2 separate regions of the Homo sapiens genome follow, and region 2 is linked to region 1. Evidence: fine-mapped expression QTL. A gene starts in region 1. The other region holds a variant in brackets. All regions are shown on one strand. Distances are between the middles of the regions.

Region 1 (5,215 bases):
CAAGCTTCCTTTCCCCTTAACAGACCCAAGTGTCTGTAGAGCCCCAGGTGCCCCCACCTGGCCAAGTAGTTGGCCTTTTGGACCCCAAAAGTTCTCATATCCCAAGCCAAGGGGAAATTGGTCTACTCCAGCCAAGCCTCCTAGCCCCAGAAAGCCCATGGGGTCAGGACTTAGGGACAATCAGGGAACATATAAAAGGTCTTTCCTGCAATAATGGTCCCTAACAAGCCCTGAGCCAATCACCTGGTAGCTGGAGCCCAAAATACCTTCCAACCCAGGTAAGTAGATATTATATGGTGACTACAAAGATATATCCCATCAAGTGAGCAAACTTATCATATTCACATCCCTTTTTTGTTTCCATTCCTATTCATGTTTTCAATGTCCCCATTCTTCACTCGCCCCATCCCCCACTAAGTCCCTTTCTCCATTCATTGCAAGCCCTCTTAGTTTTTTCTTCTGGATCTGATGCCCTTAAGCCATCCCTCCTCTGTCTCCGATTCCAGGTCCACACCTTGCCCCTACTACGACCTCTCCCACTGGGCCCTGCCTGATCCTCTTTCTCTGCCCCTGTCCAGTTGCCCACCCTTGTCTCCCCCTCTTCTCCTCGCTCTATCCCCAGGATCCTGTGGGCGGCTGTGAATTTTGCCCTGTGCTTCCTTCTCTCCTCTCTCTTTGTGGTGGGGTCCACAGCCAGTTCTCCTGTTGCTCAAAAATGTGGAGGCAGTTGCTAAGAGACAGCGAAACGTCAGTACCTGGCCCTCGAGGAAAAAAAAGGGGAGTGAAAAAGGGAGAGAACTGGGGGAGGGATGGAGGGAGGGAGAGAGAGAGGGTGGGAAGGGGGGAGGGAGGGGGAAGACCTGGCTCTGGCGGAAGCCTTATACCCCAGCAGCCTGGGCACCAGCTGAGTTTCAGAAAGAAGCATTCAGATTCTGTGAACTTTCTTCCGAGCATCCTGTCTCTGTGATTTCCCTTTGGGTGAAAGAAGGGGCAGGGGGACCGCAGGACGGGAAATCATAGAAGATGCTGGCCTGGGATCCGGGAGACAAGGAGGAGGAGAGGCCGGGGGAGGGGAACAGCCTGGGAGGCAATCTGTTCTGAAGCAAGCAAGGAGCAAGCGGGGATTCCAGGAGGAGGGAGGGAGACCCGCGTCTGCCGCAGATTGATGGCTGTGTCCTTGGAACGGAGTGAGTAGGCTCCTGGGGCCTGTGGGAGTGCGAGGGGGAGACCTGGGGCTTAGAAAAATGAGTCTGCATGAAGGGGAGCTGGGGTGATTTCCAGGTGGGCGGGATTGAGGCTTGAAGCGGTAGGAAAATAGGCAGCGCCAGGCCGAGGGTGAGGGGAGGACCGAGGACAGCAGGTGGGCAAGGGAGAAGCGAGAGGGCGCGGGGCGCGAGGGCTGAGGCTCTGGGCGTGGCATCACTCTCGGTCCCTCTGCTGGGGGCGGCGAGGAGAGTGCAGTGTGTGGAAAGGGATGCTGGGATGAAGGGTGTGCGCTGAGAGGGGGGCGAAAGATGCTGGGGGTCGACTGGGGAGGGGTCTGCAGAATCGCCTGTGCAGAAGGAAGCTGGAGCGAAAACCGCGAGGCGTGAGCACGGGGCAGGGCAAAATACGGGGGAGTCACAGAATGGTGTGTGAGTGAGTGTGTGTGTGTGCGTGTGAGAGAGAGAGGAGTGCTTAGAGTGTTTGAAAGGGGTGTGCAAACCCCCAGAGTGTGGATGCAGATTTTTCTTAGGGAGTTGTTCAAGGGTGGCGTGTTTGGTACTAATGAGGGTGGGGTTATGAGAAGAAGAAGAAAATGCATCTAACCCAAGACAGGAACCCAGAGGAGGATGGCTGCAGGTTGGGTCAGGGAGGGCTCGTGGGTAACAGCAATGTGAGCCTGGGGTCTGAACCTACCATGGCCCACACCTGACAGACAGTAAGCAGAGAACTTTGTGGTTGGGGGAGCAAAGGAAAGAGACAAAGATAAGCCAAGCGTCCTAGGTGAAGGGACAAGGGAGTGTCAAGGGCACAGGATTTCTCTGCCTGAGTGCTTTCCTTGTTGACAGAGGGAATTTGGCCTCCACCTGCTGAACACAGAACTGCGCTGAGGAAGGCACTGGCTTGGAGAAGATGCCAGAGCTCTGCCAGCTGACACTCAGCCTGCACCTTCAGGACTCATGACTTCTTCTGGCCCCAGAGGCCCAGACAGTGGGCATCACCTGGGGTCCTCCTCTCTTTGGGAAAAAAAGAGGCTTCCTGGGGATTCCAGCAGCCACTGAGGCTGAGGACTCTCAGGCTTTTAGGAGGCCCATGGAGACTCACTTCCTCCCGGGCCCTTTTCCCAAAACACCCACCCTGGGACCCCCTTGGACTCCAGCCCACCAGGCCACCAGGACAAATGGCCTCTGAGACCTTCAACACTGAAGACCCAGGTGCAGCCCCGGCTTCCTAATCAGTCCCAGACGTGGGACAGGACTTAAGTTTTCTCAGAAGAAGTGCCAAGGATCTTTAAAGGGCACGTTTCATCTCCTTCAGCCCCTCCCTCCCAGACACAGCACCAAGAGGAAACATCCAGCAGGCATGGGTGAGAGAGACACAAAAGATCTGCAGGAACTCTTCCAGGACTTGCTGGCAGCTGACCTAGCCCCATTCTTGTCCCCTCCCTTTCTCAGGTTTTGATCATCATTCCAGACCCTAGGGGACCTCAACTGGGTGTCTTGCCCCCTAGGCTCCGGAAGGGGACCTCCCGTGGATCTCAGGAAGCCCTCTGGTGCTCAGAGGCTCCTGGGAAAGTCCCTAGCCATGATACCACATGCTCAGAAGCCCCACCTTCACAGACGCTGGCCCCAGATGTAGCTGCCTTCCTGTGTCACAGACTCTCGATTCCATGGACACAGTCCTCATGGGCTCCCTCCAGCACTGCTGTTGCCTGCTGCCTAAGATGGGTGACACTTGGGCCCAGCTTCCCTGGCCCGGGCCACCCCACCCAGCAATGCTGCTGATCTCCCTCCTCTTGGCAGCCGGGTTGATGCACTCGGATGCCGGCACCAGCTGCCCCGTCCTTTGCACATGCCGTAACCAGGTGGTGGATTGTAGCAGCCAGCGGCTATTCTCCGTGCCCCCAGACCTGCCAATGGACACCCGAAACCTCAGCCTGGCCCACAACCGCATCACAGCAGTGCCGCCTGGCTACCTCACATGCTACATGGAGCTCCAGGTGCTGGATTTGCACAACAACTCCTTAATGGAGCTGCCCCGGGGCCTCTTCCTCCATGCCAAGCGCTTGGCACACTTGGACCTGAGCTACAACAATTTCAGCCATGTGCCAGCCGACATGTTCCAGGAGGCCCATGGGCTAGTCCACATCGACCTGAGCCACAACCCCTGGCTGCGGAGGGTGCATCCCCAGGCCTTTCAGGGCCTCATGCAGCTCCGAGACCTGGACCTCAGTTATGGGGGCCTGGCCTTCCTCAGCCTGGAGGCTCTTGAGGGCCTACCGGGGCTGGTGACCCTGCAGATCGGTGGCAATCCCTGGGTGTGTGGCTGCACCATGGAACCCCTGCTGAAGTGGCTGCGAAACCGGATCCAGCGCTGTACAGCAGGTAATAGAGGGGCAGAACGGGGCAGTCAACAGGGAGGGCTTGCCTCAATGGGAAGCAAAGGCTCCAAAGAAAGCGGGGGAACTTAGAGCCAGAAAGCACCTACTGCATTTTCTAATGTGGGCTTGCCTCTTTGTACACCAGCTCGGCCAACAGGTTGTTTGTAGAATCCTTCCAGTGCATGTGAGGCACCGAGGGCCCATTCATTCATTAAATAGATGTCCCTCACCACTGCGCTGCTCATGACCTAATGAGGCAGACGGATAGTAGACAAGTGAGAATAGCCTATGGTTGGTGGTTTTTATTGAGCTTTCACCATGACCTAAGATCTTGGCATCCATTATCTCATGAGACCCCCATTTTTATTATACCCATTTTCCAGGTGAAGAAACTGAGATTTAGAACAATAAAAAGGCTTGACAGGAATCACACACTTAGAAAGTGGCAGGGCCATGAAAAAAATACAAATTAAAAAATTAAAAAGTGGCAGGACCATGAATAAAACCTAGATTTATCTGACTTCTAAGCCCTGTTCTAATCTACCAGAATGCTTTTTTAGCATTCCAAGTGTTGGAAACTCTCGTATAAATAGTAATGACTAACACAATCTCAACAGAGCTGCAATAGCTTAAGTTGCGTGACAGCCAATATGTTCCAGGAGGAACTTGAGACCTTAGTACTTGCTATTTACCAGGCCCTCTCTTAAGCAGCTTTACCTATCTCTTCCTATCCCCAGAAGAACACTAATGAGATTGCCACTCTACAGAGGAGGAAGCTGAGGCACAGAGAGGTTCAGTAGCTTGTTGGAAGTTACACAGCTGCTAAGTGTTGAAGCCAGGATTTGAGTCCTGGCAATCTCCCTGACTATATCCTGAAGAGTCAGGTTCTGGCCTGCCGGAAGAGTCAGAACCTGAGTCCTGGACTGGCCAAAGGGCTGCAGTAGAGTTCCAGGACCTCATGCAGCTCCAAGACCTGGATCTCAGCTACGAGAACCTGGCTTTCCTCAAACTCAAGGCCCTGAGCAGTGTAAACTTTGGGCACAGGGTAGGGAGCTGAAAGGAAGACTGAGATGCGGCAACTCAACCAGCCAATCCCAACTGGAGGGTGGACTGGGGCCTGAAGAAGCCCAAATCACATAGGTTTGATGGGCATCCCAACCCAGTGGCATCTGAGCCTGACCCAGAGGCAGGCAATGTTCAGCTGTGGCCCTAGCCACCAGCTCTCCTGTGTGACAACACCAAGACTTGGCACAAGAACCCAGAAGTAGTAGCTGAAGGCCCTATCCAAGGGGCTTTCCCAGAACCTGAGCTCAGCCCATGTTGAGAAGAAGCAATGCTGAATGTGGTAAAAGGGAGAGGAGGACTGAGTGGGGAGCCCAAGACCAAAATAGTTTGGGGAGGGCTGTGGGTCACGATTCCAGTGTTTCCACAGAGCTGTAGGAGGAAATTCTCTTGCATCAAAATAGCTGGGGACTGGGATGGGGCGATGGTGGAGGGCAGGAGTGGGAGGATGCCTGGAGCAATCTCTCAACTTGCTCAAACTTGGCAGGCGCGCCTTCCCTCTCTCTCCTGTGCACTAATAACAGAAAGGGCACCCAAAGCACTAAGCTTACATTACACCCAGGGACTCCT
Region 2 (5,215 bases), 240 kb before region 1:
TGTAAACGAAAACCACTTAAATGAAATCTCTGTTAAGAGAAGGATGACTTTTCCGCTCATTATTGTATTCCCAGTATCTGTTAATTGTCAGGAATTTAATAGGTGGTAATTAAAATAGCTGTTTAATTAGTGAACAAGGTCTGCACATGGAAAATTCGAATGTTATCTACTAATTACAAAACTTACTAGCTACATTTCATTACAGCAAACTGTTTAGCAGTCCATGTTTTATAAAGACTTCCTAGGTCCAGTAATTGTATCCAAAACATTACAACAGAAGCTCAAATCTCCAACCAAAACTTGAAGTCAACGATTAGCAAAGATGGCTAATTTTATTTATTTTATTTTATTTTATTTATTGTATTTTATTTTTTGAGATGGAGCCTTGCCCTGTCACCCAGGCAGGAGCGCAATGGCCCGACCTCGGCTCACTGCAACCTCTGCCTCACGGGTTCAAGCGATTCTTCAGCCTCAGCCTCCCAAGTAGCTGGAATTACAGGCATGCACCACCCCATCTGCCTAATTTTTGTATTTTCAGTAGAGACAGGGTTTCAACATGTTGGCCAGGCTGGTCTTGAACTCCTGACCTCAGGAGATCTGCCCACCTTGTCCTCCCAAAATACTGGGATTACAGGCAGGAGCCACCACGCCCAGCCTCAGCTAACTTTATTTTTTTTCTATTATACTTTAAGTTCTAGGGTACATGTGCACAATGTGCAGGTTTGTTACATAAGTACACATGTGCCATGTTGGTGTCCTGCACCCATTAACTCGTCATTTACATTAGGTATATGTCCTAATGCTTTCCCTCCCTACTTCTCCCACTCCATGACAGGCCCCGGTGTGTGATATTCCCCTTCCTGTGTCCAAGTGTTCTCATTGTTCAGTTCCCACCTATGAGTAAGAACATGCGGTGTTTGGTTTTTTGTTCTTGCGATAGTTTGCTGAGAATGATGGTTTCCAGCTTCATCTATTTCCCTACAAAGGACATGAACTCATCATTTTTTATGGCTGCATGGTATTCCATAGTGTGTATGTGACACATTTTCTTAATCCAGTCTATCATTGTTGGACATTTGGGTTGGTTCCAAGTCTTTGCTATTGTGAATAGTGTCACAATAAACATACGTGTGCATGTGTCTTTATAGCAGCATGATTTATAGTCCTTTGGGTATATACCCAGTAATGGGATGGCTGAGTCAAATGGTATTTCTAGTTCTAGATCCCTGAGGAATCGCCACACTGACTTCCACAATGGTTGAACTAATTTACAGTCCCACCAACAGTGTAAAAGTGTTCCTATTTCTCCACAGTCTCTCCAGCACCTGTTGTTTCCTGACTTTTTAATGATTGCCATTCTAAGTGGTGTGAGATGGTATCTCACTGTGGTTTTGACTTGCATTTCTCTGATGGCCAGTGATGGTGAGCATTTTTTCATGTGTTTTTTGGCTGCATAAATGTCTTCTTTTGAGAAGTGTCTGTTCATGTCCTTTGCCCACTTTTTGATGGGGTTGTTTGTTTTTTTCTTGTAAATTTGTTTGAGTTCATTGCAGATTCTGGATATTAGCCCTTTGTCAGATGAGTATGTTGCAAAAATTTTCTCCCATTCTGTAGGTTGCGTGTTCACTCTGATGGTAGTTTCTTTTGCTGTGCAGAAGCTCTTTAGTTTAATTAGATCCCATTTGTCAATTTTGGCTTTTGTTGCCATTGCTTTTTATGTTTTCGACATGAAGTCCTTGCCCATGCCTATGTCCTGAATAGTGTTGCCTAGGTTTTCTTCTAGGGTTTTTGTGGTTTTAGGTCTAACATTTAAGTCTTTAATCCATCTTGAATTAATTTTTGTATAAGGTGTAAGGGAGGGTTCCAGTTTCAGCTTTCTACATATGGCTAGCCAGTTTTCCCAGCACCATTTATTAAATAGGGAATCCTTTCCCCATTGCTTGTTTTTCTCAGGTTTGTCAAAGATCACATAGTTGTAGATATGCGGCGTTATTTCTGAGGGCTCTGTTCTGTTCCATTGATCTATATCTCTGTTTTGGTACCAGTACCATGCTGTTTTGGTTACTGTAGCCTTGTAGTATAGTTTGAAGTCAGGTAGTGTGATGCCTCCAGCTTTCTTCTTTTGGCTCAGGATTGACTTGGTGATGTGGGCTCTTTTTTGGTTCTATATGAACCTTAAAGTAGTTTTTTCCAATTCTGTGAGGAAAGTCATTGGTAGCTTGATGGGGATGGCATTGAATCTGTAAATTACCTTGGGCAGTATGGACATTTTCACGATATTGATTCTTCCTACCCATGAGCATGGAATGTTCTTCCATTGGTTTGTATCCTCTTTTATTTCATTGAGCAGTGGTTTGTAGGTCTCCTTGAAGAGGTCCTTCACGTCCCTTGTAAGTTGGATTCCTAG[G/A]TATTTTATTCTCTTTGAAGCAATTGTGAATGGGAGTTCACTCATGATTTGGCTCTCTGTTTGTCTGTTGTTGGTGTATAAGAATGCTTGTGATTTTTGTACCTTGATTTTGTATCCTGAGACTTTGCTGAAGTTGCTTATCAACTTAAGGAGATTTTGGGCTGAGACAGTGGGGTTTTCTAGATATACAATCATGTCGTCTGCAAACAGGGACAATTTGACTTCCTCTTTTCCTAATTGAATACCCTTTATTTCCTTCTTCTGCCTAATTGCCCTGTGCAGAACTTCCAACACTATGTTGAATAGGAGTGGTGAGAGAGGGCATCCCTGTCTTGTGCCAGTTTTCAAAGGGAATGCTTCCAGTTTTTGCCCATTCAGTATGATATTGGCTGTGGGTTTGTCATAGATAGCTCTTATTATTTTGAGATAGGTCCCATCAATACCTAATTTATTGAGAGTTTTTAGCATGAAGGGTGGTTGAATTTTGTCAAAGGCCTTTTCTGCATCTTTTGAGATAATCATGTGGCTTTTGTCTTTGGTTCTGTTTATATGTTGGATTACATTTATTGATTTGCGTATATTGAACCAGCCTTGCATCCCAGGGATGAAGCCCACTTGGTCATGGTGGATAAGCTTTCTGATGTACTGCTGGATTCGGTTTTCCAGTATTTTATTGAGGATTTTTGCATCAATGATCATCAATGATATTGGTCTAAAATTCTCTTTTTTGGTTGTGTCTCTGCCCGGCTTTGGTATCAGGATGATGCTGGCCTCATAAAATGAATTAGGGAGGATTCCCTCTTTTTCTATTGATTGGAATCATTTCACAAGTAATGGTACCAGTTCCTTCTTGTACCTCTGGTAGAATTTGGCTGTGAATCCATCTGGTCCTGGACTCTTTTTGGTTGGTAAGCTATTGATTATTGCCACAATTTCAGATCCTGTTATTGGTCTATTCAGCGATTCAACTTCTTCCTGGTTTAGTCTTGGGAGAGTGTATGTGTCAAGGAATTTATCCATTTCTTCTAGATTTTCTAGTTTATTTGCATAGAGGTGTTTGTAGTATTCTCTGATGGTAGTTTGTATTTCTGTGGGATCGGTGGTGATATCCCCTTTATCATTTTTTATTGCATCTATTTGATTCTTCTCTCTTTTTTTCTTTATTAGTCTTTCTAGCAGTCTATTTTGTTGATCCTTTCAAAAAACCAGCTCCTGGATTTGTTAATTTTTTGAAGGGTTTTTTGTGTCTCTATTTCCTTCAGTTCTGCTCTGATTTTAGTTATTTCTTGCCTTCTGCTAGCTTTTGAATGTGTTTGCTCTTGCTTTTCTAGTTCTTTTAATTGTGATGTTAGGGTGTCAATTTTGGATCTTTCCTGCTTTCTCTTGTGGGCATTTAGTGCTATAAATTTCCCTCTACACACTGCTTTGAATGCATCCCAGAGATTCTGCTATGTTGCATCTTTATTCTCATTGGTTTCAAAGAACATGTTTATTTCTGCCTTGATTTTGTTATGTACCCAGTAGTCATTCAGGAGCAGGTTGTTCAGTTGCCATGTAGTTGAGCGGTTTTGAGTGAGATTCTTTTTTTTTTATTATACTTTAAGTTTTAGGGTACACGTGCACATTGTGCAGGTTAGTTACATATATATACATGTGCCATGCTGGTGCGCTGCACCCACTAACTCGTCATCCAGCATTAGGTATATCTCCTGATGCTATCCCTCCCCCCTCCCACCACCCCACAACAGTCCCCAGAGTGTGATATTTCCCTTCCTGTGTCCATGTGATCTCATTGTTCAATTCCCACCTATGAGTGAGAATATGCGGTGTTTGGTTTTTTGTTCTTGGCGATAGTTTACTGAGAATGATGATTTCCAATTTCATCCATGTCCCTACAAAGGACATGGACTCATCATTTTTTATGGCTGCATAGTATTCCATGGTGTATATGTGCCACATTTTCTTAATCCAGTCTATCATTGTTGGACATTTGGGTTGGTTCCAAGTCTTTGCTATTGTGAATAATGCCGCAATAAACATACGTGTGCATGTGTCTTTATAGCAGCATGATTTATAGTCCTTTGGGTATATACCTGGTAATGGGATGGCTGTGTCAAATGGTATTTCCAGTTCTAGATCCCTGAGGAGTCGCCACACTGACTTCCACAATCCTTGAACTAGTTTACAGTCCCACCAACAGTGTAAAAGTGTTCCTATTTCTCCACATCCTCTCCAGCACCTGTTGTTTCCTGACTTTTTAATGATTGCCATTCTAACTGGTGTGAGATGGTATCTCATTGTGGTTTTGATTTGCATTTCTCTGATGGCCAGTGATAATGAGCATTTTTTCATGTGTTTTTTGGCTGCATAAATGTCTTCTTTTGAGAAGTGTCTGTTCATGTCCTTTGCCCACTTTTTGATGGGGTTGTTTGTTTTTTTCTTGTAAATTTGTTTCAGTTCATTGTAGATTCTGGATATTAGCCCTTTGTCAGATGAGTAGCTTGCAAAAATTTTCTCCCATTTTGTAGGTTGCCTGTTCACTCTGATGGTAGTTTCTTTGGCTGTGCAGAAGCTCTTTAGTTTAATTAGATCCCATTTGTCAATTTTGTCTTTTGTTGCCATTGCTTTTGGTGTTTTAGACATGAAGTCCTTGCCCATGTTGAGTGAGATTCTTAATCCTGAGTTCTAGTTTGATTGCACTGTGGTCTGAGAGATAGTTTGTTATAATTTCTGTTCTTTTACATTTGCTGAGGAGAGCTTTACTTCCAAGTATGTGGTCAATTTTGGAATAGGTGTGGTGTGGTGCTG

Alleles and levels. Positions count from the first base shown, and alleles are read on the strand shown. Sizes are in standard deviations (SD) of each study's normalised expression.
For the expression in iPS cells of the gene that starts at base 2,857 in region 1, G is the low allele of the variant in region 2 and A is the other (moderate effect, 0.54 SD a copy in PhLiPS).

Evidence for each region.
Region 2: its variant is fine-mapped to the expression of LRRC55 in iPS cells (PhLiPS, PIP 0.95).

Annotation. Positions count from the first base shown.
Region 1 is chr11:57,179,097-57,184,311 of GRCh38, forward strand. LRRC55 (leucine rich repeat containing 55) reads left to right here and starts at 2,857. Exons shown (of 2, transcript NM_001005210.4): 1 at 2,857-3,587. The coding sequence starts at 2,927. The region is part of intron 4 of LOC105369309 (a long non-coding RNA gene); the gene reads right to left. RefSeq lists a silencer at 3,259-3,553.
Region 2 is chr11:56,938,394-56,943,608 of GRCh38, forward strand. All of the region lies in intron 1 of LOC105369310 (a long non-coding RNA gene), which reads right to left. Among named protein-coding and RNA genes, the nearest start is that of OR5AK2, 48 kb to the right of the region's middle. The variant G/A (reference allele first, on the strand shown) is at 2,408.